Homo sapiens: one gene and its partners. The protein of the gene in region 2 interacts with the protein of the main gene of each other region in a biochemical or structural test. Each region holds a gene or a part of one and is shown on either strand. Other genes may lie near its edges.

The links.
Region 1: of the proteins of NACC1 (region 2) and SENP2, one has a biochemical effect on the other in vitro, tested with the Homo sapiens proteins (one study listed by BioGRID).
Region 3: of the proteins of NACC1 (region 2) and SENP1, one has a biochemical effect on the other in vitro, tested with the Homo sapiens proteins (one study listed by BioGRID).
Region 4: the proteins of NACC1 (region 2) and PML form a complex in vitro, tested with the Homo sapiens proteins (one study listed by BioGRID).

What each region holds. Positions count from the first base shown.
Region 1 is NC_000003.12:185,630,584-185,635,350, reverse strand, and holds the end of SENP2 (sentrin-specific protease 2), read right to left. Parts: 3' UTR 1,800-4,767; downstream 1-1,799. UniProt on the Homo sapiens protein: Protease that catalyzes two essential functions in the SUMO pathway.
Region 2 is NC_000019.10:13,126,652-13,135,661, reverse strand, and holds part of NACC1 (nucleus accumbens-associated protein 1), read right to left. Parts: intron 463-9,010; 5' UTR 455-462; coding exon 1-454. UniProt on the Homo sapiens protein: Functions as a transcriptional repressor. Seems to function as a transcriptional corepressor in neuronal cells through recruitment of HDAC3 and HDAC4. Contributes to tumor progression, and tumor cell proliferation and survival.
Region 3 is NC_000012.12:48,060,463-48,069,472, reverse strand, and holds part of SENP1 (sentrin-specific protease 1), read left to right. Parts: intron 1-2,507; coding exon 2,508-2,546; intron 2,547-3,792; coding exon 3,793-3,877; intron 3,878-4,252; coding exon 4,253-4,408; intron 4,409-5,631; coding exon 5,632-5,763; intron 5,764-9,010. UniProt on the Homo sapiens protein: Protease that catalyzes two essential functions in the SUMO pathway.
Region 4 is NC_000015.10:74,031,991-74,041,000, forward strand, and holds part of PML (protein PML), read left to right. Parts: intron 1-581; coding exon 582-725; intron 726-1,165; coding exon 1,166-1,424; coding exon of another isoform or gene 1,425-1,432; intron 1,433-2,487; coding exon 2,488-2,540; coding exon of another isoform or gene 2,541-2,666; exon of another isoform or gene 2,667-3,181; coding exon of another isoform or gene 3,182-3,961; exon of another isoform or gene 3,962-4,016; coding exon of another isoform or gene 4,017-4,070; exon of another isoform or gene 4,071-4,404; intron 4,405-9,010.

The DNA of each region.
Region 1 (4,767 bases), on a different chromosome or scaffold from region 2:
CCCCTCAAATGAACTGAAGGCCTACACATGAAAAATGTTATAAAACTTAAATCAGTGGAGACGCAATCATCCCATGCTGGAAGAAATGTCAAAATACCAATGGGTAATTATCTTTTTCCTGATTTTTAAAAATATACATAATTTTTAACCCAGAAATTGTAATGCTAAGAGTTTCTTAGAATAAACCAAACATTGTGCAAGATGTTATATTCAGTAATACTGGATTAAATAAATGTTATAGCCATATAGTGGAATACTGTGCCATTAAAATGATATATTTATTGATGTGAAAATGTTCCAGTGGAAAAGGAGTTATATAACCGTTTATATAATTCTGTATTTGTTGTTAATAACAAGTTATATACACACACAAGCCTGTACATGTATTCACACACCCATGAAGGGGGAAGGCCAGGATATATACCCACTTTTTTTTTTTTTTTTGAGACAGAGTCTCAGGCTGGAATGCAGTGGTGTGCTCTCGGCTCACTGCAACCTCCGCCTCCCGGGCTGAAGCGATTCTCCTGCCTCAACCTCGCCAGTAGCTGGGATTACAGGTGCCCACCACCACACCCAGCTAATTTTTGTATTTCTAGTAGAGATGGGGTGTCATCATGTTGGTCAGGCTGGTCTTGAACTCCTGACCTCGTCACTGGCCCAACTCCGCCTCCCAAAGTGCTGGGATTACATGTGTGAGCCACCGCGCCCGCCCCAAATGTTAATGTTAAGAGGTATTAACTCTGGTTGTGAATTTGCAGAATTAACTTTCTTTACCTTATCGGTATTTTCTATGAACCCCTATTACTGATATAATTAAATAAAAATAAAAGGAGACAGGGTGGTAGTGTGGGATCAGACTTTATGATCACCATGAGGAGGGGGGTGTTGCTGGGAGGCCGTGGAAGGGGAGTGGTAAGGTTGCCCAGTGTGTTCTTAAAGTACATACTGCCAAGAACTCTCTCTGTTGCTTCTCCTGGCACTTTCCTAAGAAGTGTATTCCAAAAAATAGTTCCACAGGTGTCTCATAGAAAAGGGTTCAATGTCCAAGTTTTGGGAAATGCTAGGTTAAGACATAACTCGTTCATATCAAACTTCTTATGATGTTTGTTATACATCCCCAGGAGGAAAGGACATGGTACACATATTCATTGGCCCACAGACCCTTTGCTTTATATCCTTTAAAAACAAACAAACAAAAAAAAACAACAACAAAAAAAAACTGAGGTCTTGCTATCTTGCCCAGGCTAGTCTCAAACTCCTGGGCTCAAGCAATTCTCCTGCCTCAATGGCCCCCAAAGTGCTGGGATTTCATATTTTTTATACAAGTTACAAGACTTCTACTTAACACATTTTAGGAAATGCCCATCTGAGAACCTAAAGATTGTTTCCACCACATATTTCCATCAAAAGTCTCAAAGCTGCTAGTCTGTTTTCCTAGATTTAGATGGAGTCATCTCAAAACAGCCTCACATTTATAATATATATGGTATTTTTTGGTCTCAGGCTTTATGGTTTTAAACATCATTTGCCTCGCGGTCAGGTCACTTAGAGCAGTATTTTCCTTCTCTGCATTATCTGTCCATTAGTGGGCAGAGAAATCAACTTGGTGGTTACAACCTAAATGTTTTTAAAAACTGAAATAAAACTATCATCATAGTAAGGATATGTATTACTTCACAAAAGTGTATGTGCAATGTTGTTTGTGTCCATATACAATCACACTGTGTGTGTGTGTGTGTGTGGTCACAACATAAAATACTTATTCCTATGAGTTGCAATAAAAAACAAGTGAAAGCCACTGAATTAAAGAGATGAATTTATTGGTAAATAGATAAAATTAACACCTATTTTAATATATCCAAACCCCTTCCTTATATATATTAGGTAAATTAAAAGAAAAAAATTATCAAAGCAATACTACAGCCAGCTACATCGCCAATTTACAAATGAGTTAGTAAGTACCATAAGTTTGTTTGAATATCAGGTGCTTCAGAGTTTTTCTCAAACAGTTACAAAAGAGATTAGGTTCCCAATCAGTTCACAAAAGCTAATTTAAAGAATGTAGCTTAACTACAGTACTGAGGTTGTCACACACTTAACTTTCGGTCTCTTGCTTATTTATTCATATCTGAGGTTCACTGTTTCTACTAGGATACATTCCGCCCACACCCACACCTTGGTCCCCACATCAAGCAGCTCCTCACAGCAGGAAGACATCCGCTATCAGACATGGTTTTCTGAAGTTGTGCTTAGGATTTCAGAGGAGGAAAAATTCAGAGGTTCTAATAGCCTTCGGTAACTGAGGTAGAATATGGGGCTCCCAAGAATATCTTCCATATGCCCCAAATCTGTTTCCCTCCCACCCCCATCCAGCTCTGTTCAAGGTCAAGTTTGAGAAAGATACGTGTTCTCAATGGTATATTTTTAAAATCCACATCAATTTTTAAGAGACTACCTGCTAAAGGAGAATAATGGCTCACTGCATCTTTTCTCAACCCCCTAAACTATTTTAAAAACACACTGGCAGGGACAGGTGCAATGGCTCACGCCTGTAATCCCAGCACTTTGGGAGGCCGAGGCGGGCAGATCACTTGAGGTCGGGAGTTTAAGACCAGCCTGACCAACATGGAGAAACCCCGTCTCCACTAAAAATACAAAATTAGCCAGGGGTGGTGGCACATGCCTGTAATCCCAGCTACTCGGGAGGCTGAGGCAGGAGAATCGCTTGAACCTGGGAGGTGGGGGTTGCAGTGAGCTGAGATAGCGCCATTGCACTCCAGCCTGGGCGACAAAAGTGAAACTCCGTCTCAAAAACAGGCTGGGTGAGGTGGCTCATGACTGTAATACCAGCACTTTGGGAGGCCGAGGCGGGTGGATCACCTGAGGTCAGCAGTTCAAGACCAGCCTGGCCAACATGGCGAAACCCCATCTCTACTAAAAGTACAAAAATTAGCAGGGTGTGGTGGTGGGCACCTGTAATCCCAGCTACGCAGGAGGCTGAGGCAGGAGAATCGCTTGAACCTGGGAGGCGGAGGTTGCAGTGAGCTGAGATCACACCATTGTACTCCAGCCTGGGCGACAAGAGACTCTGTCGCAAAAAAAAAAAAAAAAAACAAAAAAAAAAAACAAAAAAAAAACCACTGGCTTTAATGGTGATAATTTGCTACTAATAAAATCAATAGCTGTTTTTCAACTGAACACTTAAACTTTTAGATCCAAATAAACTGTTTGGATCTAAAAAACTATATTACTAACATGTTTCCTTATGCCAAGGGAGACATGTGAGTGCCTAGAGAAGTATGGCCTGTGGTCTCCCACATTCAATTCAGGAACTCAGGGTCAAGCAGAAGGCCATGCTATAGACTTCAACACTCTGCTCTTCCCAATTTCATTATGTCCTGCAAGTTTTAAGAGCCGTCCGGAAGAGTGTAGGTTAATGGAAAGCTCAGTGAGAACTGCTCTGAAGAAGCCCCTCAAAATAATACATTAAGCTCAGCATCATTCACGTGGGCGGAATACAAACTGACATTCCTAACAGGACTTACCTAGCATGGACTCGATCTTAACCATGGTACCAAACTCTCAAGTGAAGCACACTGATGCCTGGTGAAAGCCAGGCGTTTGGTATGATGCTGACCTAGTGAACCTCTGGCCTTTTTGGCTGTGCTCATTACCTGGTCCCAGCACTCACTGGCACAATGCCAGGAGCCCAGAGAAAGGAGCAGGGGCTGCGGGGGGGGGGGGGGGAGGGGGAAGGGGGGAGGGAGGGTGGGGAAAGGGGAGAAGGGGGGAGGGTGGGGGAAAGGGGGAGGGTGGGTGTTAGGGAGAGAGGGAGGGGGAGGGAGGGGGAGGGGGGGGAGGGAGGGAGGGGGGAGGGAGGGAGGGGGAGGGGAGAGGGAGGGAGGGGGAGTGGGAGGGGGGGGGGAGAGGTGTGGTACAACCTGCTCCCGCTTCAGTCATCACCCACCACATGGCCTCTGGCTGACCATCCAGTAGGCCCAGCATTTTCCATCCACACCACAGGCCCCATGTCCTAAACCAGGAGTTTTACAAGTCTCAGGGAACTGGCTGCAATAGCTGTAACCAGTATACCTCTGGGACCAGCAGCCGGAGCACTGCAAATGGCAGGCGTGTAGATTCATAGGTAACACGTGCACAATTTTTCCAGTTTTACCTCTTGCTTTTATGAACCAGAACAAGTCTGGGAGGTTTAAGTAGGGAGAGGGTTAGAAATCATTTCAGCATATACTTTTTTAGGTTCTGCCAGACCACCTTTTATTACATCAGAAAAGCAACACTAGGCACTAGATCTTGCAAAATATGTTCTGACCAACTCTAAACTGTCTGAAGTTATAACCATATCAGTAAGGTTTTTAATGAACAAAAAAGTTAAATACAAACTTTCATATGCAAAATAGATTATTGTATAACTGGCAACCTCAGAGCCAAGTACTAAATTTTCTTCCACAAATTTCAGTGGGGATGGAGTGGGGAGATGTTAGTCTTAATGAGTAGAAAACTTAATTTAGACTTAATATATAGAAAACAAAAACTCTGAGGAAAAATAGCTTTAAATTGAATAGTATCTTTTGAAATAAACAGCTCAGGCCAGCCCCTACAATTCTGAGGTTTATACTCAACCAGATCTGGGATGAAAATGAAGATTTAGGGTTTACAGTTACTTCAAATCCATGAATCCAGTTTGAAGACTAAGCCAAGTCACCACATTTCCAGAAGGGGAAGTCTCTTTAAGGTGACCACAACACT
Region 2 (9,010 bases):
CCGATGTCTGCGCCACGGGGCTCTGGGGCTCCGACGATGGGGCCTCCTCCGCATGCAGGCCCTGGGAGTCGCAGCTCGGGGAGCTCACCTTGAGGAAGAACTCGGTGCCCTTCTCCATGATCTCCTGGATCTGCAGGAAGCCAGCCGTGTACATGAGCAGGAACTGGTCGCCCACGTTCATGCTCAGCCGGCCCGTGTAGCAGAAGCTGAGGATCTGCTGGAAAGACTGGGGCTGCACAGCCGCCGGCAGCTCCACCACGGCGCTGCGGCTGTTGTTGAACAGGTCCCGGAAGTAGGAGCTGCTGGCAGCAAGCACGGCCCGGTGGGCCTTGAAGGCATGGCCCTTGACCACCACTGACACGTCACAGTACAGGCCCTGCAGCCGCTGTTCATTGAGGCACTCCAGGATGCTGTTGCCGAAGTTCGGGATCTCCATCTGCAGTGTCTGGGCCATGGCAGCGGCTGCACGAGGGGCAGGGAGGAATGGAGAGACAGAGACGGAGGGACGGGGTCAGGCGGCAAATGTGGGTGCTGGCCTAGCCCTGGCCCCAAAGACCTCCCCTGCTGGAGGGACATCCGCACGATGGAATCTACCATGGTGCTAAACCACACAGAGCCCTCTACCCTATCTGTCCTGGTACAGACTCACTTTTACAATATGTGGTCAAATCTGCTAAGCTAGCTGCAGACCAGGGTGGCCACACGCTATCCCTTGCAAAGAGGAGGGGGCAAAGGCATACTTATTCATATGTACTTGAAGAGTAACTGAATATGCTTAAGTGCTCGGAAGAGTGGCTAGGACACAGTGTGCTACCTCTGAGTGCCAGCTATTGCAAGCACCAGGTACATATATGGTATCTCTTCAGGGTACTGGCATGGAAATGCCAGAAAGGCAGGGTCATCTGACTGTGCAGCAGAGTCTGCAGTGCTGGGCACATGCCCTTCAATCACTGTTTGTATAATGACTAAATGACCACTCAAGAAATTACATGAGGTCAGGCGCAGTGGCTCACTCATGTAATCTCAGCACTTTGGGAGGCTGAGGCAGGCGGATCACTTGAGGCCAGGAGTTCGAGACCAGCTTGGCCAACGTGGCAAAACCCTGTCTACCAAAAATACAAAAATTAGCCAGGTAAGGTGGTGTGGGTATGTAGTCCCAGCTACTAGGGAGGCTGAAGCCAGATAATTACTTGAACCCAGGAGACAGAGGTTGCAGTGAGCCGAGATTGTGGCACTGCACTTCAGCCTGGGGCATAGAGTAAGACTGTCTCAAAAAAAAAAAAGGAAAAAGAAATTGCATGAGGCTGGGTGCAGTGGCTCATGCCTGTAATCCCAGCACTTTGGGAGGGCAAGGCGTGTGGATCACTTGAGCCTAGGAGATTGAGACCAGCCTGGGCAGCATGGTGAAACCCTGCCTCTTACGAAAAATACAAAAATTACCCCGGCATGGTGGAGCACACCTGTGGTCCCAGCTACTAGGGAGGGTGTGGTGGGGGGTGGATCTGTTGTTGAGCCCAGGTCAAGGCTGCAGTGAGCTGTGATTGCGCCACTATACTCCAGCCTGGGATACAGACAGAGACACTGTCTCAAAAATAAATAAATAAATAAATAACTTACATGAAAACATCTCTAGTCATCAGGGAAATTAGAAGAAAACATCATCAGGGAAATGCAAATCCTAACCACAATGAGACACCATCTCACACCCACTAGGATGGCTGGAATCAAAAAAGTTGGTGAGGATGAGAAATCCAGAACCCATTTCCACTGCTTGTGGGAATGTCAAATGGCACAGCCACCATGGAGAACAGTCTGACGGTTCCTCAAACGGTTAAAGAGAGTTACCATATGACCCAGCGATTCCACTCCTGGAATTTATGCCCAGGAAAAACGAAAACATTTGCCTGCATTGAAAACCTGTAAACAAACGTTCACAGCAGCATTATTCACAATAGCCCAAAGGTGGAAACAATCCAAACGTCCATCTGCGGATGGATGGGCCAACTAAACATGGTCAGTCCATACAATGGGATATTATTCAGCTATAAAAAGAAAGGAAATTCTGACACATGCTACAACATGGATGTCCCTGGAAAAGATTATTCCAACAGAAAGAGGCCAAACAAAAGGACCACAGATTGTATGATCCATTTATAGGAAATGTCCAGGACAGGCAAATCCACGCAGACAGGAGGCAGATTAGTGGTTGCCAGGGGCTGGGAGGCGGGGAGAATGGGGGTGTGGTGAGGGAAAGCAAAGGGAAGGCAAAGGTGTGTGGGGTTTATTCTTTTTTCTTTTTTTTTTTTGAGATGGAGTCTCACTCTGTCGCCCAGGCTGGAGTGCTGGGATTCCAGGTGTGAGCTATCACGCCCGGCCTCCTCTGTAATTCTATAGGGTCTCTAGAGGGCAGTGGTCCTAACTGGGCAGAGTGCGAGTGAGAAGGCTTCCCTGAGTAAGGCAGATCTTTCCAGACACTCCAGCTGGCCAGCAGGAGAAAGTAACAAGTACATGCAAAGGCCCTGGTGCAGGAATGCACACCTTCCCTCCCTTCCAGTTAGCTCTCAAGCACCTTCCATGTTTCATTAGCAACTCCACTCAGATCTGCCTCCCTGGGCTGGGCACTGAGAATACAGTGGCCACTCTCCTCCTAATCTGGTAACACCCGTTCCGTCTGAAAGGGCTGCTGTGAGGAATAGAAACGGCAAGTGTTCAAAGGCTCAGAGGTACAACCTAAGGTTGAGTCCTGGCTCCAGCACCGACCTGCTCCTCTGACCAGGAGCTCCAAATCTCTGCTTTCTCCATTTGGAAATCGAGGCTGAGGAGGTCAACCTGATTCTACAAACTCAACCTACACTTATTGTTACTGAATGATCATTCAAGAAATTACACGGAAACATTACTAGTCATCAGGGAAATGTGAATCCTAACCACAGTGAGATACCATCTCACTTACTGAGCTGCTACCCTGGCAGGCCACAAGCAAGACACAGGCCCTGCCCCTTACAACACCCAGGCGAATGGAGGAACCAACTCACAACTTCTATGAGCTCCCCGAATCCTCTTAGCAAGACTTCAGGGCTGGTTTCATACTCCCCTTGCAAAGCTGGAAAAACTGAGGTCATGTGGAAATTGAGGACTGTCCTGAGGTCATCTAAAAATTCATTCACCAGGTTCAAAATTCAAAAGATATGTCCTGAAGGGCGGGATGACTCAAGCCTGTAATCCCAGCACTTTTTTTTTTTTTTTTTTTTTTAAGACAGAGTCTTGCTCTGTTACCCAGGCTGGAGTGCAGTGGTGCCATCTCGGCTCACTGCAACCTCCGCCTCCCAGGGTCAAGTGATTCTCAGCCTCCTGAGTAGCTGGGCCTACAGGCGTGTGCCACCATGTCCGGCTAATTTTTGTACTTGTAGTAGAGATGCGGTTTCACCACATAGGCCAGGCTGGTCTTGAACTACTGACCTCAAATGATCCACCTGCCTTGGCCTCCCAAAGTGTAGGATTACAGGCATGAGCCACCACACCTGGCCAATCCCAGCACTTTGGGAGGCCGAGTCAGGTGGATCACCTGAGGTCGGGAGTTCGAGACCAGCCTGGCAAACACGGTGAAACTCCATCTTTATTAAAAATACAAAAATTAGCTGGGTGTGGTGGCCGGTGCCTGTAATCCCAGCTACTCGGGAGGCTGAGGCAGGAGAATCACTTGAACCCGGGAGGGTGGAGGTTGCAGTGAGTCAAGATTGTGCCATTGCACTCTAGCCTGGGCAACAGAGTGAGACTATGTCTCAAAACAAAAACAAACAAAAAAACCCAAGATATGTCCTGAGCTATCTGCTGCCCCTACCACTTACATGCAAAAAGTGGTAAGGCCAAGATTCAAACCAGGGTCTGCCTAGGCACCACAGCCTGTGACTTCCCTTGCTTGTATCTTCCTTCCTCTTCCCCTCCTCAAAATCACTGCCACCATCCTACGAAAACACAAACAAAACAAAACAAAACCCCAAAACCTCCTTAGGGCAATCAGAGGGTGGAGGCTGGATCTAGGAATCCCAGTTACAAGGCAACAAAAATCTCCGCCCAGGAGCTCAAACTCAGAGCTGAATGGGCCAGGAGCTGGCCACTCTGCATGAAGAGGCAGGAGAAACAGGCACCATGTTGGGGGGCAAAGGACAGAGCCCAGAGAGCCTACTTCAGGGGTCCTGGCAGCCCTGAACCACCTCCCTGGGCAGCCAAATTAAAGCCACCCCTGGTACTGGGGCCCACATGACAAGGACCAAGATGGTCAAGGGAAGAGGCTGGCATCCCAGTTCCTAGAGGGGTGCTCCAAGCTCATTCCCCAGGGAGGAGGACAAAGCCAGGACAGGTGTGCAGTGCTGCCAAAATCCTGCACCTGCCTGTGCCTCAGTTTATTCATCTGTAAAATGGGCTGTTCATCCAACCCATCCTGATGAACTGCATCCTCCTTTGTGGGAGGTGCTGGGGACACAGCCCTAAAAGGACCAGCTGTGCTTATGTGGAGCTGTCTAGTGAGGAGACACCGGGGATGATTTAATTACAGTTGGGGTGGGTATGTCAACCAAGCAGATGGCCTTGGTGGTAGGGACCATAAAAGGTTGAGCAACTGCCAGGACAGAGATAACACTTCTGGGCGGGAAGGTATCAGGTGTGGTCCAGGGACCCAAAGAAAGCTGGTGTAGCTGAAGGGCGATGTAGCAGGGACAGGGCTGCCAGGAAGGGTATGGGACAGGTGGGGTCCTGGCCTACAGAGTGTGGACATCTTTGAAAGTGAGCCCCAGGGTCAGGGCAGCATTTTAAGAGTTATATGTACAGGCCAGGCGCGGTGGCTCACGCCTGTAATCCCAGCACATTGGGAGGCTGAGGCGGGCAGATCACCTGAGGTCAGGAGGTCAAGACCAGCTTGGCCAACATGGTGAAACCCCGTCTCTACTAAAAATACAAAAATTAGCCGGGTGTGGTGGTGCACATCTGTAGTTCCAGCTACTCAGGAGGCTGAGGCACGAGAATCACTTGAACTTGGGAGGTGGAGGTTGCAGTGAGCTGAGATCGAGTCACTACACTCCAGCCTGGGCAACAGAGTGATACTCCATCTCAAAAAAAAAAAAAAAAAAGAAAAGAAAAAAGAGGTGTATGTACAGTTAACCCCTCCAAGGGCACTGTCAGCTCAATGAAGGCAAACATTCTGGCTGGTTTTATTCAAGATTAGTTCTTTAGAATGAAATAGATGCTCAGTAAATATTTGTAAATGTGTTAAAGAACAGTGCAGAGAGGCTGGGCACGGTGGCTCACGCCTGTAATCACAGCACTCTGAGAGGCAGAAGCAGGAGGAGCCCCTGAAGCCAGGGGTTCAAGACCAGTCTGGGCAACATAGTGAGACCCCTATCTCTACAAAAAATTTTAAAATTAGTGGGGCTTGGTGGCTTGCACCTGTAGTCCCAGCTACTTGGGAGGCTCAGGTGGGAGGATCACTTGAGCCAAAAAGTTAGAGGCTGCAGTGAGTGATGATTGTGCCACTATATTTCAGCCTGGGTCATAGAGCGAGACCCTGTCTCTAAAACAAAAAAAGCAAAAACAAAAAACCACATCCCCCGACCCCACTACCCCACCAAAACCAACCAACCAACCAGCCAACCAAACAAACAAACAAAACAGTGCAGAACGGGCACAGGACTGCTTCAAGGTGACCTTACCAAGCACCCAGCACCGGCCACAGGTAATTTTTTTTTTTTTAAAGACAGGGTCTCACTATGTTGTCCAGGCTGGTCTTGAACCCCCCCATTTGGCAATGGAGACTGAAAGGTTACGGGGATAATAGGAGGCAACAGAGATGTGGGGGTTGGGAAGGTGGCCCAGGTCCCCTCCTGAGAATGAGAGCCAACCTGATGCTCAGACTGAGGTCCCCCATACCTTGTGAACCTCAGCTTCAGAGCCCAGCACCACAGCACCCAGGGCTTTGGAGCCTTTGATTAGCAATTGGTCCAAATAGCTCAGCCAATTAGCGCACGGGAGCTCTCCCTCCCTCCATGCTGCTGGGGACGAGCGGAGTGGGGCGACGGGTCTGTGAGCCACAGTGACCTGAATGCTGTTCGTCTAGTTCCCCAGTGGCCCCCGCACAGAGTGGACAGGGGTGAGCTGCAGTGTGGGCCAGAGCAGACCCATCTCTGGGAACCCCTCCATCCCTCTGTGATTGGCCCAATCCGGCCCAATCCTGCCCAATGGACTCAGGAGAAAAACTATGTGGGCCCCTGCAAGAAGCCCTCACCCACGCTAGCCCCAGGAAGGGAGCTAGCATGACTGGACTCAGAGGAAACGGGTCTCTCGCTGGCAGGTCCCTAGCAGGGTCACCTGCTGGCTGAAGCAGGGGTGGGATGGAGTCGAGGATTGAGGTCTCTAAACCACCTAATGGTTCTAGTCCCCACCAAATCCCCACCTAAGTCAGGCTCAAACACACTGCCTGGTCCTCCTCTACTGCAGCGAGGCCTTTGCCCAAGCTGTGCACCCTGCCTGGAATACCCTCTTCCTCCACCCTCAGCTACTCACTTCTCCAGGCTAGAGAAGATGTCCCTCTCCTGCCCCACCCCGGCCACAGTGCCCTTAAGCTTACCTCTGAGGAAACTAAGTCCCACTTGACTATAAACTCCCCAAGGGCAGAAAACCATATGAGAATCATCTCTCCTTAAAATTCAGCATATCAGCACCCCTGAGGGTGTGGGGGACAAGGGCAGGAGGCCACAGGGCAGCTGGGACCTTCCTGGCCAGGACAGTGCCTAGTCCTGGCCCTGGGCCTGAGCAGATCTTCTGGTGAGACCCAAGGGCACAGCACACGGTTTCCATGACTTCCCAACAACTACTCAATAAATATTTGCCAGGTCCCTGCCTGGGCAGGCCACAATGGTGACAAAGTAGCCCTGCCTCTGGAGCTCACAGTCCAGCAGGAGACAGGGCCATTCATCCTTGGTCACACAGATCAATGTGCTACACACTGGGGTGCCTGACCTTGCCCAGAAGGGGTGACACTGGAGCTGAGATCTAGGAAGGGCAGTAGTGGATGGGGAGTGTGGCCCTTCCAGAAAGGGTTTTCACCTCCAGGGGACTGGGCTCAGTCTCAGGGCTCTGCTATGGACAAAGTATGTCCCTCCAAATTCACAGATTGAAACTCTGAGCCCCAATGTGCCTGTATCTGGAGATAAAACCTTTGGGAGCTAATTAAGGTTAATTGAGGTCATAACGGTGGTATTAAGAAGGCAGCTGTCTGCAAGCCATGAAGAGAGCCCTCACCAGAACCTGACCACGCTGGCACTCTCATCTAGACTGCCAGCCCCCAGCACTCTGAAATATAAATGTCTGTTGTTTAAGCCACCCAGTCTGTGATATTTTGTTGTGTGGCAGCTTGAGCTGACTAAGACAGGCCTGAAGCACCATCTATTCACTGATGCCTCCCCCACTGGAGTCTTTGGCCCGGACTTCCCTGTGAATGCCAGACTCGCACACACCCCAGACACCTCCACTCAACAATTTCAGGACCTGGCTCCAGTCCTTCCCAAAACCTGTGAATGCCGTAGCTTCACCAGCTCTGGCCCTCCTCATTCAGATCCTTGGATTCATCTTCAACTCCTTCAAAACCACTTTGTACTACCTTGGCCCCAAGTGACACTGCCTGGGCCCCTACAATGCTTTATTGGGGCCCCTGGCAGTCTGGCCCTGCTTGCTCTCGGACCTACTAGAATGGGAATGGGACAGCCATAGCTCTTCATACTCTCCCTGGTCACATAAAGCCCTTTCTCTACTCTTTTGCTTTTGGAGACAGGGCCTTGCTCTGTCACCCAGGCTGGAGTACAGTGGCACCATCATAGCTCACTTCAGCCTCAAACTCCTGGGCTCAAGCAATCCTCCCACCTCAGCTTCCCAAATAGCTGGGACCACAGGAGCTACATCCAGCTAATTTTTTTTTTTCTTTTTTTTTTTGAGGCAGAGTCTCGCTCTGTCGCCCAGGCTGGAGTGCAGTGGTGGGATCTCGGCTCACTGCAAGAATCGTTCAAGCGATTCTCCTGTCTCAGCCTCCTGAGTAGCTGGGATTAAAGGTAACCACCACCATGCCTGGCTAATTTTTCTATTTTTAGTAGAGATGGGGTTTCACCATGTTGGCCAGGCTGGTCTTGAACTCCTGACCTCAAGTGATCCGCCCACCTCCCAAAGTGCTGGGATTACAGGCGTGAGCCACGGCACCCGGCCCATCCAGTTAACCGAAAAAAAAAAAAAAAAAAAAAAAAAAAAAGTATATGTATATGTATGCTTTTTTTTTTTTTTTTTTTTGGTAGAGACGTGATCTCACTATATTGCCTGGGCTGGTCTCCAACTCCCAGCTGAGTGTTCCTCCTGCCACAGCCTCACAAAACCCTGCGATTATAGGCATGAGCCACTGCGTCTGACCAACAAAGCCCTTCCCGACACTAACTCCCTGGCTTGATTCTCCCTGCTTGACTTATCCTTCTTGGGAGTTCCTATGATTTATTTAGCAAGCTGGCCATTTTTCTTTTTCTAAAAAAAAATTATTTATTTGTGCATTTTTTAGTAATAGAGACGAGGTCTCCCTAATGTTGCCCAGGCTGGTCTCAAACTCCTGGGCTCAAGTGGTCCTCCTGCCTTGGCCTCCCAAAGTGCTCGGACTACAGGTGCGAGCCACCACCCCTGCCAAACTGGGCATTTTTTGGGGCTTCATGTCAGTTTCCCTGGGGCAGGGAGTTTGCCTGTGTAGATCCCTGTTGTGTCCTCTACCCCTAGGACCTGGCCAGGTACACAGTGGGTGCTCACAGTCCTTCGTGGAAAAAATGAACAAAGAATTACTTCCATTCCTCCTAACCTAACTCCCTGTTTTGTTCCACATTAACGTGGCTCAAACAGGAATAGGGCTCAGAAGCATTATCTGTGGCTGGGCAGACAGACGACCTCCTTTGACAGCTGCCAAGGTGGGTAGCCAGCAGTCAGGGGCCTATTG
Region 3 (9,010 bases), on a different chromosome or scaffold from region 2:
TAAAGAATGAGATGGCAGGAGAAATGGTCTGTTGGGTAAGGCTGTTTGAGCAATGCTCTTTGTCAAAGTTGGTGCCTACTCTGCTGAGGCTTGGTTTATTGGCTCTCTACTCTTAATTCTCCACTACTGCCTCTCAGTTAAGTTCCAGTAATGAAGATCTGCTTTTATTTCCCAGAATATGCTATGCTGTGTCATACCTCTTTGCCTTTATACATTCTGATCCTTCTGTCTGGATGTCCCTTTCTCTCTCTGTCTACTTGGTAAGCTCTTATTTTGCTTCCTTTTCTTTCTTTCTTTTTTTTTTTTTTTTTTTTTTTTTTGTGACAGAGTCTTGCTCTATCATCCAGGCTGGAGTGCAGTGGCACAATCTCTGCTCACTGCAACCTCCGCCTCCCGGGTTCAAGTGATTCTCGTGCCTTACCCTCCAGGGTAGCTGGGATTACAGGCATATGCCACCACACCCAGCTAATTTTTGTATTTTTAGTGGAGATTGGGTTTCACCATGTTGGCCAAGCTGGTCTCGAACTCCTGACCTCCGGTGTTCCACCCACCTCAGCCTCCCAAAGTGCTGGGATTACAGGCATGAGCCACTGTGCCTGGCCTTAATTTTGCTTTTCAAAATCTCATCCAGGTGTTATTTTTTTTTTCTCAGAAGATTTCTTTGACTTTGCCAGATAATGTTAGTTTTTCCCTCCATCCTTCTACCTTGTTTGTTACTAATACTTTTGTATCTGTCACCCATTGCTGGTCATAGTGCTTGGCATATGATGGGTGCTCAGTAAATAAATCTTTGTTAAACAAATGAATTTCCTAGATAGCCTGAAGTGCTCTCTTGAGTAGCCCAAGTACTTATTCCTCCCCCGCTTTTTTTTAATGCTTTCATCTATTGAAAGGCACAGTCGAAAGAACACAGTCTTTGGAATTGGACAGATAAGATTTCTAATCCTAGCCTTTCAAGAGAAATTATCTTTTTGAACCTCCTTTTTCATTTCTGTACAGTATGAGTAATAATTCTTTTTTATATATTATGTTGAGGTTTAAATAGTATAGGGATTTTCATTAGGCTTAACTAATACATAAAACATCTAGAGCAGAGTTTTACATGTAGAGCACTAAGTATGTGCTCAAAAACATTTGCAGTTATTATTACTATATGCCTCAATTATATGAGAAATAATGCATCTCTTTGGAAAAGCAGATTTTCCCTGCATTTTGTTTTCCGGAGCCAGTGGATACCTTGATCCATTGAAGAAAACTGCTTGTCCCTACATTACTTGTTTATTCAAGAAATACTATATGGCTGGGCATGGTGGCTCATGCCTGTAATCCTAGCACTTTGGGAAGGCCAAGGTGGATGGATCACCGGAGGTCATGAGTTCGAGACCAGCCTGGCCAACATGGTGAAACCTCGTCTCTACTAAAATAAAAATAAAAAAAAGAAAAAATTAGCCAGGTGTGGTGGCGGGTGCCTGTAATCCCAGCTACTCAGGAGGCTGAGGCAGGAGAATCTCTTGAACCCGAGAGGTGGAGGTTGCAGTGAGCCGAGATTGTGCCACTGTACTCCAGCCTGGGCAACAGAGTGAGAGTCAAAAAACAAACAAACAACACTAAATGCCTACTCTGTGCCAAGCACTATTCTAGTTGCAGATCATTTTTTTTTTTTTAAGAGACAGAATCTCACTATGTTGCCCAGGCTGGTCTTGAACTCTTGGCTCAAGCGATTCTCCCACCTCAGCGTCCTAAAGCACTGGGATTACAGGAATGAGCCACCATGCCTGGCCTCTGATCCAGGTCTCTTAACTCCCAATTTGATGCTCTGTTTACTTGTTCTCTATATTTAATAGTTTTCTTTGGAAAAGTGTTCACTCTTCTTCTTTGTGTTTCTGTGATAGATCCTGCCTAGTTAGGAGTTTGGAGATAAGGAAGTTTGAGAAAAACAAGAGGCTCTAGGACAATTAATCATGTCTGTGGCTCTGCTCAGCATATCACTTGGGTTGTCAGCAGAGCCACATGGACCTAGAATTGGCCTGTCATCTTTGGAAGGAAGTTGTGTTGCTGATTCTCTGCTTTGGCTCATTGGCTTGTTAGCCATTTGATGTAGATTATTTTGTGTGTGGGGATTTTTAATAAATCTTTCAATCTGAGTCATTTGGGAAGAGCAATGTTCTAGCTTAATGTATTATTTTGAGAAGTGATGTCCTCTTTCACGTAATGTTGGTCTCATGCAAGTAGGGAGCTATGCCAAATGTAGTATCTCTGCTGAACTTTGGGTCACCTTTTTAACTAATATGTATCCATATGATTTTAACTAATATGTATGCATAAGGATTGTGTCTCCTTAATTCCTAGTTACAATTATTTTATGTCATTTAGATTCCTTTTACTTATTCCATACTTGTAAAGCACTCATATAAACAATTTAAATGATTGTTTTTATTGATGAAAATATTTTAATTTTCTCATAAGCCTCCTGCTCATTTGTCAAATTTTTCTTTTCCTACCCATAGTTCTACTTTCTTCCAGGCAGAGCTGTGGATCAAAGAATTGTAAGTTATTTTTGGTATCATTTTTCCTTCTCAATCAGTTCATTTTTAGTTAGAAGAAATCAAACAATTAGCTAATCATCCTGCTTATTTTTTGCCAATAAGAAGTACCTGTTTAGGCTGGGCGCGGTGGCTCACGCCTGTAATTCCAGCATTTTGGGAGGCTGAGGCAGGTGGATCATCTGAGGTCAGGAGTTCAAGACCAGCCTGGCCTTCATGGTGAAACCTCATCTCTACTAAAAATACAAAAATTGGCTGGGCATGGTGGCACGCGCCTGTAATCCTAGCTACTTGGAAGGCTGAGGCGGGAGGATTGCTTGAACCTGGGAGGTGGAGGTTGCAGTGAGCCGAGATCACGCCACTGCACTCCAGCCTGGGCAACAGAGTAAGACTCCATCTCAAAAAAAAAAAAAAAGAAGTGCCTGTTTATACTTTTAAGTTGTTGGGTTTTCAAAATATTGTTGGAGTTGGAACATTTCTATACTTATGTTTATTAAATCTATAACAATTGTTGAAGCTAAATTAAATTGGAAAAATAGAGTTAGCTATTATATAATAGGGAAAATAAATGATCCTATTTTGGCATTTGTAAAACTAATTTATTGAATAATTCATATTTCTGGACTTTGCAAAATCACTGAAAGCATTTAGTCTCACTTAAGGAACTTAAGTTATCCAAACCCCTCGGTCTCGGTAATTTTTTAAAAATCTATCAAAAATGAAGTATTTGAATTAAACTTCAGTGATATCTTGTATTCGTTTCTCCTTTAGGGTTCAATCCCATTTTTGGATTTCCAGACTGAAGTTTCGCTTTCACTATAATCTTAAAAGCATGTTAAGAAAAGAACTGTGTGTTTACAAATGTTAACAAGTCATCTGTTCACATTTAGCAGCACACTAATATTTTTAGTAATTTCAGTAAAAATAGGTCGGGTGCAATGGCTCACATCTGTAATCCTAGCACTTTGAGAGGCCAAGGTAGGGGGGTCGCTTGAGCCCAGGAGTTTGAGACTAGCCCGGGCACTGTAGTGAGACCCTATCTCTATAAAAAATAATAAGTAAAAATGGTAGAGTAATTTCAGTAACATTATGTGGTTTCACTCTATGTCTTAAAATAAGGATGATAAGTTAGTGTAAGGATTTTAGACTTTCTTTGTGAGGGTCCTGTATTTAATATTCAGTGTACATCAACAATATGTTTCATAATGAGAGTGGTCTACATTTGGTCACGTTCCTTTTCATTTTCTAGAACTAGTGTTTATGATTCTCGAGCACGAGAAAGATTGCGCCAGATTGAAGAACAGAAGGCATTGGCCTTACAGCTTCAAAACCAGGTAAAAAAGAAAATTGGAATAATATTACAAATAAATAGTACATCAAAGTAGAAACTATTTTGGAAAGTTACCCAGATTTGGGTAATTGCTGTTGTAATTCCAAGATCGTATGGTAGCATAGCATGTTATGATATGTCGTAAATGTTCTTGGTCTGTCCAGTCAGTGCTACTCATTGTACATAAGACAAATATAGATAGTCCCCTACTTGTGATGGTTCGACTAATGATTTTTTGACTTTACAAAAAAGCGAAAGCAATGGGCATTTAAGCACGCTCTTTGACTTATGACAGGTTTATTGGGACATAACCCTATCATAAATCAAGGAACATCCACAGATTTCTTTATCCCACTTACTCTGAAGTTTTATCTTTCAGAGATTGCAGGAGCGGGAACATTCAGTACATGATTCAGTAGAACTACATCTTCGTGTACCTCTTGAAAAGGAGATTCCTGTTACTGTTGTCCAAGAAACACAAAAAAAAGGTCATAAATTAACTGATAGTGAAGATGAATTTCCTGAAATTACAGAGGTAAGTTACATACACTTAATTTCTACACTACTAAGTATCATGTTTAGAAAGAATCCCTCGGATGAGTTTCAAACATAAAAGCAATAGTGGTCAGGCACGGTGGCTCACGCCTGTAATCCCATCACTTTGGGAGACTGAAGCGGGTGGATCACTTGAGGTTAGGAGTTCGAGACCAGCCTGGCCAACATGGTAAAACCCCATCTCTACCAAAAATACAAAAATTAGCTGGGTGTGGTGGCATGCACCTGTAATCCCAGCTACACAGGAGGCTGAGGCAGGAGAATTGCTTGAACCCGGGAGGCAGAGGTTGCAGTGAGCCGAGATCATGCCACCGTACTTCAGCCTGGGTGACAGAGCAAGACTCCATCTCACATACACACACACACAAAAAGCCATAGAACACGTGTTATTTAAATTTTCTTGTATATTTCAGCTTTCGCTTATTTTATATACCAATCTGGGCTTTATTTTTAAAATATTGAAAATTTATGAAAGAACTATGGGTGGCTTTTAACAGTTTCAGTGAAGAAGCATTTAATACATTTGTCTTTCATGTCATGTGCATTTTTACTTAATGCACACATACAATAGTTTGACCTCAAATTGTAAGCTGAGATTTGCTCTTTTTTTAAGTAATAAAACCCATTATAGAAAATTTGGAAAATACATGGAGGTCTGTGTACATTTTTAGATAATCCGTTTCTTTATCCATACTTCTCTTTGAAACACTACCATGTAGCTGGTGAGCATAACACACTTATTATAGTTGTACTGAATTCCATACTTTACATTTAAAAAAAAAGATCTCTAAGAAAGTAATTTCTAAAAGATACTGCCTTTACTCTCTTACTACCTTTTATGAAAAATTCTGTTTCTCAGGAAGTCATTTGGACCAGAGATATAAAATACAGTTAATTTTTCTCATGTGCTTAGAAAATTTGATAGCGGAAGGTTGTTCCAGACTTTAGGAATTAATATGGAAACAAGGATCTGAATGTTGTGCTGAAAAAGAGAAGGGAGGACTAGATGAAGTGGAAAGAAGTAATCGGGGATTACTGGGAAGGAATAGAAACCAAAATGTTAGAAGTAAACTGATTAACAGTAAATTTATAAACAATCGAATGGTGATAAATATAGTCTGAGGATTATATGGGGTTTGGTGAGAAATACGGTTTTTCTGAAGCCACGCGTGTTTGATGTCTTGACACCTTTTGTTTTCTTAGGAAATGGAGAAAGAAATAAAGAATGTATTTCGTAATGGGAATCAGGATGAAGTTCTCAGTGAAGCATTTCGCCTGACCATTACACGCAAAGATATTCAAACTCTAAACCATCTGAATTGGCTCAATGATGAGGTAATGTTGCATCTATTTTTACATACAAATAGTAAACATTAAGTGGCAGTTAAATTAAGGCATTATCTCACTTTTTCTCAAAATGTGGTCCATGGATGACCTGCATTGGAATCATCTCTCATAGGCCTCTTCATTCTTGTAACTATGAGGGAGTGTGGTGGAGACAGGCATTTTTAACAAACATCTCAGGTGTATTTTAAAGTCTGAGAACCACTGAATTTACCTTTTCTTGTTGAAGATTTGAACATTGAAGAAGACATTCACTCATTGGTATTCTCACTCTTTAAGGCTCCTATTCTGCAGTTCATCTCTTCTGAACAAATAAGTATTAGCCGACCATGTTGCAGCATGAGGGAATACTGTGGGATTTCTTTATAGGAATCCAGTTTTACTTCCCTTTCTACCTAAGTTCTACTCATTTTAGATCACTTATATTACGAATGACAAGCTTTCCAAAATCGCCTCCATTTATGTATGATATTTTTTAAATGGACATTGAAAAAGTTATATTATTATTAAATATTTGAGGTATTGGGGGAGAAGTTACGGTCTTCACCTCCTAACTCCAATTTATTTTAAGTATATTAATTACACTACAGTTTTTAAACTGATCTGTTCCTAAGCCTAAACCTGTAGGTACCTGTTTTATTTTAGAAGGTTATTTTTACAGCAAAAGAAAACTGGGTTGGGTATCTTTTCCTAAGTACCTTCTTTGCATAAGCATCCCTGGCTAATCTGGGTATACTCAAGCTTCACAGCTGTGGAGGATTTTTAGTTTCTCAGTGTAGTAATCATTAAATATTTTAGATATCCATATCCTGTTTTTGTATGATCAAGACCTTCCAAATAATATTTGCCAATAACTATTGATCATTTACCTCATTAGTACGATTCATGTTTTATGTGTTTTATTCTTGTAATAGTCATCATATCTTTGGAAGTAGATATGATAGTTCACCATTCTGCAGATAAAGAAACAAGGCATAGAAAGATTTAAAAACTTGCAAGGTTATACAGCTAGTAAACAGCAGAGCCAAGATTAAGACCCAAGCATTGGGTCTTATCTACTATATCTTAACTACCTCAGAATCTTAAATTGGATACTGGTCTTAGGATCAGATATATAGAACTTAGGAGCCATATATCATGTCCAGGATGCTTTTTTTCTCTGGGGCCAGCCCCATTCTTTTTGCCACTGGTTGGTTTATAAGATAAAAATTTCAGAAGCTCATCACTCCCTGAATAATATCTGTGACCAAGAATAATAAGGAAGGCATGGTTTGTTACTGTCTTTCTTTAGAAGAAACCCTCTTTGCCTCTTTTGGCTCAGATATTAGAACATTGGTTCAAATAATGGAAAAAAAGAGCTCACCAAATCAAAGGAGGAAATTAAATCAAGGATAGTTATAAGTATCCACTGATAAGTTATTTTTGATCTGTGGTCCTTTGCCATTTATTTCCTGCCATTGCTGGTGGTGCGAGGTCAGTTACTCTAAAGGGATAGTAGGCTTTAGTTTGTTGTAAATCATGGAAAACCTCCTAGAGGGCAGCAATCAGTAGGATATGAGCTGAGTTCTTGCTATTTACTGTGGCATTTACCTCAGTGAGATTCCTTACAGAGACAGCATTCATCAGGACATATTTTCCATTCCCTGGGCCCATCAGAGGCTGGATTTTTAGCAAGCTAAGTTAATGGAAATTACATTATTTTAGAGGAGATGAGAAGAAGGAAAGATTCTTTGTCTACTTTATCCCTACCACCCCTAGCCATAACTTTTGTAGAAGGAGTGCATTTCTTCTCAGTTCAGAATGATGTTATCCTTGAAAATGAGTGCCAGTTCACATGTCCATAATAATGATGGGAGCTATCTTAAAAAGCACCATTTTCAAAGTACCATACTTCGTAGGCTTTCAAAGTTACTGCCCTTGAGAAGCTAACATCCTGATGGAGTATTATTAGGTATCCTTAAGTATTGATACTCATTGAAGAATACTTAATTTTGGCCAGACACAGTGGGTCATGCCTATAATCCCAGTGCCTTGGATGGCTAAGGTGAGAGGATCACCTGAGGCCAGGAGTTCAAGAGCAGCCTGGGCAACATAGCAAGACCCGATCTCTACAAAAAAATTAAAAATTAGCCAGCCATGGTGGCATATGCCTGTAGTCCCAGCTGTTCAGGAGGCTGAAGCAGGAGGATTGCTTGAGTTTAGGAGTTTGAGTTTATAGTGAGCTATGACTGAGCCACTGTACTCTAGACTGGGTGACAGAGCAAGACTCTGTGTCTTCAAAAGAATACAAAACTTAATTCTGTTTCTCAGTTGTGAACTATCAGTCTTTTGCAAATGATTTGTCCTCTGTTCAATCCTCTTCTTCCCTCAAGTAGATATTTTCATTAATAATAATTTCTCTTCTTTTTCTGTTTCCTGCTTTATAAGATGTATTAAAACTTTCTCCAAAATAGGTGACTGATACATTGTTCTTATCATTTTATAAACAAAGTACCATACTTTGTAGGCTTTCAGAGTTAAAAAGTAATATAAGAGCAAGGAAGTAAAAGGAATCAGATTCAGTTTATAAGGAAAATAAAATCCAGAAATCCTATGTTTGGGATATGTATGGAAAGCCATTAGGATACCCTGTTCCTAAAAGAAGAGTGACCACAGTACCTATTCATACAGTAGGTTTTAAGATTTTTTTCATAAATGGATTTCTCTATAGGTCAGTTTGGTTAAATTCTGTACAACTTCAAAGGACTAATGATTGACAGGATTAATATAATAAAACGTCTCAAAAATGGAATGTGGGAACTGGCTGCCATATAAAGAATACAAAAGGAGGCAAGAAGACTGTTACAATCAAGACACCGTAGATGGGGATTTCTATACTGGGTCAGGAGATTAGTTACTAATAGAAATATCTAATTAAGGGAAGGGAGGATAGAGTTAAAGAGAGGAGAAATTACACTGGGAGCAGTGGCTCATGCCTGTAATCCGAACACTGAGAGGCTGAGGTGTAAGGATTGCTTGAGCCCAGGTTGTCAAGGCTGCAGTGAGTTATGATTGTGCAACTGCACTCTACTACAGGGTGAGTGACAGAACAAGACTCTGAGATCCTGTCTGTTTTTTAGAAAAAGGGAGAGAGGAAAAATTAGTTGCAAAAGTAGAAGTAGATTGAAGCAGTCAAGAAACAGAAGGAAATATTTTCAAATGGGTGTCATTATTAGAAACTATGTATTAATTCCTGGAG
Region 4 (9,010 bases), on a different chromosome or scaffold from region 2:
AGTTAAGGCTGAGAGGGCAGAGGCAAGGTCCCAGGGAGGCCAGTTTCAGCTCAATGGGAGGATTTTCTCACTGTTAAAGGAGCTGCTTTCGCCAGTAGTGAGCACTTTGTCCCTGGAGGTGTGTGTCTAAGTAGGGCTAATTACTGAGCATGTCCTGAGTTGGGCAGTGTGATTCCTGGGGTATCTTCCAGCCCTGTTAGGACACACAACAACCAAAGTGGTCCCTGGGCTCCAGTAACTCAGAGTCAGAAGGAGGTGATGCCAGTCGCGGTGGCTCGTGCCTGTAATCCCAGCACTCTGGGAGACTGAAACAGGAGAATTGCTCAAGCCCAGGAGTTCAAGACCAGCGTGGGCAACATAGTGAGACCCTGTCTCTACAAAAAAATTTTTTTAAAAAAAGGAGGTGATGTGATGGAGAGTTTGGAGGACTTCTTGTCCCCAGTGAGCTCGGAGCTTTGAGTCAGGGAGCCTGGACCTGTGACTTGGTGAGGCCCCAGGGATTAGGCCAACCACAGGTCTGGGGTACCTGGCCCTGGGGCTGCTGCCTAGTCATTTCTGACTCAATTTTCCCAACTTTGCAGCCCGAGGAGGCAGAGAGAGTGAAGGCCCAGGTTCAGGCCCTGGGGCTGGCTGAAGCCCAGCCTATGGCTGTGGTACAGTCAGTGCCCGGGGCACACCCCGTGCCAGTGTACGCCTTCTCCATCAAAGGCCCTTCCTATGGAGAGGTAAGGTTCTCCCCAGCCCCAGCCTTCCCTCCTGAAGGCCTGAGTTCCACCAGGAAAGTGAGCTGGCACTGGGGTGGGAATCCAGGCCTTCATCAGATCAGCTCTTTGTGGGAAAGTGTTTGCTCAACGCCTTCTCTGTGCTCTCCCCTGTTCTTGGCTGCATGGTCAGGGAGCTTCCCATAAGCATGGCCCACTCCCAGCCCAGCAGGGGTGCTGAGACACTCAGGGTTGTCAGAGGCCAGCAGAGACTGGTGGACAGCAGATAGTACCAGCTTGGGAAGGCTTCCTGTCTGAAGAGAGACGTAATCTGCGTGGTTGAGAGCAGAGGAGAGGGGACAGCAGGAGCAAAAGGGTGGCCACAAGTCCCTGGCAGTCAGGGCAGGCTCTGCCCACTCACCCCTGCAGGCACCTGACCTGGCTCTGTGACTCCCTCTATGCAGGATGTCTCCAATACAACGACAGCCCAGAAGAGGAAGTGCAGCCAGACCCAGTGCCCCAGGAAGGTCATCAAGATGGAGTCTGAGGAGGGGAAGGAGGCAAGGTTGGCTCGGAGCTCCCCGGAGCAGCCCAGGCCCAGCACCTCCAAGGCAGTCTCACCACCCCACCTGGATGGACCGCCTAGCCCCAGGAGCCCCGTCATAGGAAGTGAGGTCTTCCTGCCCAACAGCAACCACGTGGCCAGTGGCGCCGGGGAGGCAGGTAGGGAGGTGGGTAGGGCAGTGGCCTGGGTGCTGCCCGCCAGGGTCTGGGCGGTGCCCCTCTTCTGTATTTTGGCCCCATCCAGAAAGCCCAAAGCCAACAGGAGTCCCTTATTCCCACTGAATAAGATAGGGAAAGTTCACAGTGTGCGTGGGGGTGAGAGTGGACACAGTTTACCATGTGTTTTGCCATGATTGAGGTGTGGGGAGCCTGACAGGCTAAAATGCACAGTTCTATGAGTCCTTTCTCCCAAACACTACTGTGCCTTTGCACAGGGCAGGTCTCCACAAGAAGTTTGTTGGCTGATGCCTAGCATACTCCCAGAGAGGGCTTGGGCATACCATAACAGGAAACTGGACTCCCCATGACCTTAACTCTGCTCTCTCAGTCTACACCCATCATTTCCCCAAGTGTTTCTGCAAAGGCCACCTACCTAAGTATCTCATTTGTCAGAGTTATCTTCTATGAACACTGCCAGGCAGGTAGTCAGTTGGGCAGGAGTTGAGGTCAACCCAGAGGAATCTGGAACAAGAGAGTTCTAAGGATCTGCTTCACCCAGAGTACAGCTTTGTTCCTCATTCTGACTGAGCCCTAGCCTTGGTCACACACTGAGCACTGACTGATATTCCTTACCCACAAATGCTATTGGTAATCGATGGGTTTTGATTAACTAAATGAAGCGTCTTTTAACTCTAGACATCCCAGCTCATGGAGCTGAGAATGGGGACAGTGTGCTTCTTTAGGATTGCAGAAGGTTCCAGACCAGGTAGCAGTTGTCAGGCCTCCTGTACAGGGGGCAAATTCTGAATTCTGGGCAGATAACTTAATTGAATATTCATAGATAAGGCACAGCAAGAAATTATGGAAACCCATTTGTGAATTACTCAAATCCAAATGCAAAGCAGAGTCACATTGGCACACACAGTGGCTGTTCCCGTCCCCCTGCAGGGCATCCGTTTCCCCCAGCCGACTGGCCTGCAAGGATTCCCATAGGTGCACACCCACACCCCTCCCAGCATGCATCCTAGGCAGTTCATAATGCATCTCCCCTTCCCCGTTTCAGAGGAACGCGTTGTGGTGATCAGCAGCTCGGAAGACTCAGATGCCGAAAACTCGGTGAGTGGCCCAGAAGTTCAGCCCAGGACTCCTGCCTCCCCCCATTTCAGGTCCCAGGGGGCACAGCCACAGCAGGTGACTCTCAGACTTGCCTTGCGCCTGGGGAATTTTCCAGTGAGGCATTGAGTCCCAAGCTGTGCTGAGGACAGTCTCCAAATGACAGCTGCATGCCTGGACCACCCCAGCCCTCCCACTACACCAGGGCCAGGAGCTCTTCTGAAATGCTGATAGCATGTGTCCAGAGCCCTGTCTCTTTTCTGGAATGTCCAAGACCTTTGTCTGGAGCTTCCTTATGCATTTTCTGTCCTCTAAGTCCTCAGTGAGGAGGGCTGGACAAGAATCCATTCCTTGGTTTATTACAGCCAGTGGGGGCCAGTGAAGGGGTGTCAGGCCACAGGGCAGCTATATAGGGGCCAAACAAGTGAGGTTTGACTCCATCCATGTAGAAAGATATATAAATCCATTCCACAGTGAAACAGGTGGCCTCGTGGGTAGTGACCCTTCTGTCCCTAGAGGTTTATTACTAGAGGCTGGACTATCACCTGTCCAGGGGAAAAGGGGATCTGAATAGAGTGAAAGGTTGGACTGGGTGGCCCCTGAGGTCTCTTCCAGCCCTCAGTCTGAGGTTCTGTATTGGAAAGTGCATGGAGCCCATGGAGACCGCCGAGCCACAGTCCTCGCCAGCCCACTCCTCGCCAGCCCACTCCTCGCCAGCCCACTCCTCGCCAGTCCAGTCTCTGCTGAGAGCACAAGGAGCCTCCAGCCTGCCCTGTGGCACATACCACCCCCCAGCTTGGCCTCCCCACCAGCCCGCTGAGCAGGCTGCCACCCCCGATGCTGAGCCTCACAGCGAGCCTCCTGATCACCAGGAGCGCCCTGCCGTCCACCGTGGGATCCGCTACCTGTTGTACAGAGCACAGAGAGCCATCCGCCTTCGCCATGCCCTCCGCTTGCACCCTCAATTGCATCGGGCCCCTATTCGGACTTGGTCTCCCCATGTGGTCCAAGCCAGCACTCCTGCCATCACAGGGCCCCTCAACCATCCTGCCAATGCCCAGGAACATCCTGCCCAGCTGCAAAGGGGCATCAGCCCACCCCACCGGATACGAGGGGCTGTGCGATCCCGCAGCCGCTCCCTCCGGGGCTCCTCCCATTTATCCCAGTGGCTCAACAACTTTTTTGCCCTCCCCTTCTCCTCCATGGCTTCCCAGCTTGACATGTCTTCCGTGGTGGGGGCAGGGGAAAGCAGAGCCCAGACTCTTGGAGCAGGTGTTCCCCCTGGGGACTCTGTCAGAGGCTCCATGGAGGCCTCTCAAGTCCAAGTGCCTCTGGAAGCCTCTCCAATTACATTCCCACCACCCTGTGCCCCAGAAAGGCCCCCCATCAGCCCAGTCCCAGGCGCCCGTCAAGCAGGCCTCTGAGAGTGCTACCCTTCTCTTGTAACCTTGCAGCCAACACCCCTGCCCGGCCCCTGAGCTGCCTCCTCCAGCCCATGCTCTTACAGGCCCTGCACAGAGTAGCACTCATTAATTCTTGGTTAAGGAATGAATCAACGAATGAATGGCTATGCATGGACCTCTGGGCAGGGAGACCTGGGTCTTCTCTGGCTGAGAGGGGAAGGCTAAGGCATGGCTGAGATTCAAGCCACCATTCCAGGCCTCTTTGCCCAAGAAAGAAACTTCTGTCACCCTTGCACTCTCCTGTATTCTGAGTCCCTGGCCAATAGCACAGCCTTCCATGCCCCGACCCCCACCCCAAGCCTCTCCACTAGGCCTCTGCCAGGATCTAAGCCCATGAGCACAGGGACTGGCTATCCCAAGACCTGGCAGATGTGGCTGCTCAATAAACACTTGTTGAACCATCACCCTTGCGAACCCTTATTCCACGACCATCGCGTTCTCCGATGGATCCAGCTCCTCCCTGCAGGCTGTTCTCTCTTCCCTATGCTGGAACTCAGTTCTCCTCTGGGGATACCATGTCCCCTCTTCCTCCCACACTCATGGGCATCAGAGGTGGGAGGTAGGGTCAAGGCCCCCTGCTTCCTGGACTGTTCCAGCCCCTTCCTGGCCGTCTGGTAAGATCCTCTGTCCCTCTCAGGGTGGGCCCCATGCTCCCCAGCTCATCCCAGACACCCACCTGCCCACCCTCATTGAGGGCAGACGTGAGCATTCACCTCCCAGATTTCTTCTCCCTGCTCAGGTCCTGCCTTCCTCCTGAGTGACTTCTATTTCCACCCACCTGCCCGCCACTCCTTAACCTCTCAGGGGTTGTCACCCCATTCCCCCAGACAGCTGCCTGCCCCGTGGCCGTGCCCTGCACCTTGCCATCACCGAGCACTGTCGGTCCCTCAGCCGGTCCTCTCAGACTCTGACCGCAGCCTCCTGTTCCTTGAGCTCTCAGTCCTACCTTCGCCTCCCTCCAGCCCCGCGCACTCCCCATTTCATCCCATCTTTCATCAGAATTGCAGCTCCCTGCCCAGCAGAAAATCCTGGAAGGACTCAGGAGCTTGTCGCCTCTGTGCTGCCACCTGGAGACCGAGATCTGCAGGAGAAAGGCCTGGGAAAACTATGAGTGGTTGCCTGTGACTGCTAAGGGCTCCTTGGTGCTCCGCCCAGCATGTCCTTTTGCTCTGCAGGGCAGCCCCCGCCTGCCTTTCTTCACTGGGCCCTTGTCCCAGCCTCACCCTCAGCTGATGGCGGCACCTTCTGCTCCAGGGAGAAAACAGGAGCTCTCCAATGGCATAGGGACAGTTGACATCTTGCTATTTACAGATCCCCATCGCACCCCTTCCCTGCCCTCGTTAGGGTGGAAGGGATGTCCACCTGCCTCCAGGACTCACCCTGTGTCCTGGCCCCAGCCCTTGACCCCCTGGGAGCCTCACTCCTCCTCCTCATCTCTCTTGCATCTTCTAATGTATCCACTGCCTTCTGAACTAAACACCCTGAATGAGGTCTTTCTCATCTCAGAAAACTCCACCCACTTCTCTCTCCAGCTGTCGGCTCCCCTTCCTCTGCTCTCCTTGTTTACACTTCAGCCCCCTCCTTGCCCCTTCTTCACCCCACCTCCTGCGCTTCCCCGCCAGTACCAGGGTGGCCTCTGTGCCTCTAGGTGCAGTGTCGCGTTTAGTCGTTATTATTCTTGACCGGCGCTGGGCCCGGTCTTTCCTGGAAAGATCGCCTGCTCGGATGCAGCTCTGGGCACTCCTCCCTCTCCTCTGCAGGCTCTGTTTTTTCTTGGTTGTGGTGCTCCTGCAGGTTTGCTGCTGGGCCCTTTCCTCTTTTCAGTCTGTGTATTCTCCCAGGTGCTCTCAGCCACGCCCCTGACTTCAGTTACTGCCCAGGGGTAGCTGATACCCAACACTCGCACCTGCCTGCCAGACCAGCATGGCCAGTGACCTTCCAACAGCTCCGCATGGATGCCCATAGGTACCTCAAACTCAGCACCTTCTCCTCCCGTCTCACTGGCTCGCCCCACTCTCTGCCCGGTTGCACAAGCCAAGACCCCATAGCCACCCAGGGCACCCCCCTTTTGATTATTCCTCACATCCAACCAGTTATTGAGTCTTGTCTTTCTAGGGTGTAAATTCCTCTGAAATCTGGGCACTTCTTTCCATCCCATAATCTTGGTAAAATTAAAGCTACCACTGACCCTGGGTAGAGGCAGAAGCCTGGGAAGGAAAGGTGGAGAACAGGTTTGGAGTGCCAACAGTGTCCCCAGATGTCATGGAGAATCAAGTAGAGGGACCCCAGCAATATTGGGGGTGGGGCGGGGAGTATGTAATGCTCAGCTATCAGCAAGGAGTCATTAGGGGCTATACAGTGAATTAAGGGAGGGGGTAAAAGCACATTTCAGGTGATGATGAATTAAATACCTAGGAGCTCACATTAGAGAGCAGGCCTAGAGACGTGGGGAGAGAGCCAGAGGACCGCTGCTTTTGTGTATGTAGCTTTAAGACACAGGTTTTAAAAATTGTTATAGGAGTCCCAAACTTTAGAAAATATATATTTTAAAACCCCAACAAATTAGGTCCCCCCTATGCATTTCTCACCCAACTTCTGGGCCCTTTCCAGACCCCTGGTGCCCCCAGAGTACACCCAGCACCACCACTGCAAATTCCTACTCCCCAGCTTGGAGGGGGTGGGGTGATATTCCCAAGGTGATCCCGGCTCCCACCTAACCCATCCTCCCCAGCTCTGCAGCTTATATCCAGCTTTGCAGTGAGGAAAGTTGCAGAATACTGGTCTGCTACATTACTACTTTCCAAGTGTATCAGGGCATTTAGGAACCCCTCCCTTGAGCTTCACCTGTGTCCTAGGGATTCAGTGAGAGACTGTTTGTGCAAGAAGGAGCGAGAGGCAGCAGGGCATAGTCATGGGGTGGAGCAGTGAGTCCCCCAGGCCTGGTTGTGGAGTACCTGGGGTGAGGACTTTGCTTAAAAACTGCCAGAGTGGGTCAGCAGTGCGCCTGCCCTGGGGCCCCTGCTTTAGGATCCAAAGTGGAAAAGATAGGTGTTTTCACCCACTCTTGTGACAGATTACTGGCTCCGGTGCCTTGGTGGCAGCAGCAACAGGAGGGGGCCAAGGTGAGGGGGCAGCCTGTGGCAGAAGTGGCAGTGGTGACGGCGGAGGAAGGGAGGCCTGTGGGGAATGGCTGATCCAGGGGAGGGGCCGTGGCACTGGTGAGTGTGCATCTGAGAAAATGAAACGGAGGTGCTGGCCAAGAGGCTGGAGCTAGGCAGAAGGGCAGCAGAGGCCACAGGCTGGCCGAGTTTATGGTCCAGTTCACTCATAACATGTGCAGTATTCCTGGGGTCTTTGAGGCTTTGCAAGAGCTGGGGTTTTGTGTCTGCAGAAAGATAGCAATGCATGTGTCTTGCCAAACTGATCCCAGCTGTAGCTGATGCTTAAGTGCTCAGAAAGTTCTTCAGGAGCTTGAGGGCTCTTGATAAGCATGAATGTCAGATGTTCTGTATCTTCCAGAGGCTGGATGCTGACTATCAGAGTTTGGCTTGTGTTTGGCTGATGAGCAAACCTGGAATGAATCAGTGATAAGGACAATTGTTCTCAAGCTGGCTGTACACTGGGGAGTTTTCCCAACTACAGATTCCTAGGTCCTACGCCCTGAGATTCTAATCGAATCAGTCTTGGGTGCAGCCTGGGCCTCAGTTTTTTCTTAAAGCTATGAATGCCTAACCAAAGTCAAGAACCACTGAATCGGGGGATTCATTGCATGTCTGTGGTAGAGGAATGCTGCTCATTTGTTTATAGATGTGGCAGTCTTGAATGCAGGTGACATTTTCATACCAGGGTGTAATACCGCAGAGGAGGGGAGAGGCTGGATCTTCCCTGATGTACCTCCTGGACTTTTGGAGTGTGATTACAATGCCAATCCAGCCACTTCCTCTGAGCATGCTTGGGACGACTGTTAGACCTGCTGTGTTGAGTTAGAATGCACTTGACCTGCTCAGGCCGTGAAATCTATGAGGAAGGGGAGTGAGATGGATGTAGCTCATGAGCCAGATTGCAGGTGTATCCAAGTTGCATGTATATCCTGAAAAAATCCTGGCTCTCACGAGGCTCAGCCTGAACACAGTTTTGCATTCAAAGAAACAATGTCCATTAACCAAGTATAATAAAGAAATAAATCCCAGTATTTACTTGCATCTTTTGAAAGAACATTAAAGGGAATCCAGCTCATAACCCCAGCAGCACTTCTTCAGTCCTTCTTCCCCTTTTCTTTGGCGCCTGGCATCTCTCACTGCATAGCAAAGCTTTCCCCCTTGATTCCCGGTCCTCACACGCAGGCTCAAGGCTCTGTTTCCCATCTTCTTTCTTCTGTCCCCCTTCCTTTTCTCTTCCAAGCAAATCTAAGTCTTTTCCAGTGACTGTCCCTCTCTATGCTCCCCCGACACCCAGTTATCCTAATTTGCGGAATAAGGCCAAGGTGTGGGGCCTGGGGGCAGAATGGGAGAGTCTCCCCTAGTGAGCAGGGAGGGGAGTATGTTCTGCACCAGGCCACTATGTCTGATGGCCCTGCTGGCAAACCTGAGTCTTTCAGAAAGTCTTGTTTAAATGCGTCAGCACTCCCCAGCTGTGATGCTGGAGTTTAAGGCGGAGCAGGGGAGAATTCTGGGTTTACAGCTGGCTGGAGTTCCAGTGAGACCAGCTCCATGGGTGGCCATACTTTATGGAAGTCCCCAAGGGCAAGAGGAATTTTGGAGGAAGTGAGTCAGGGCTGAAAGGTCCAGCCTCTCCTCCATTAACAAGCTTGGTGGAAAGGGGGTGTCCTTTTATTAAAGGAGACAGTAGAGGTTTCTTAGAGAAGGCAGCTCGAGTAAGTTTAGGACAAAGGACATTTCCCTGGCCCCGGGACAATGGAAGGCTCTAAAAACGAGGTTCTAGTGGCTGCCATAAATGACCCTGCTGTAACGATGGGAGGGGTGGCCTAAAGAGACAGTACTGTGGCTCTCC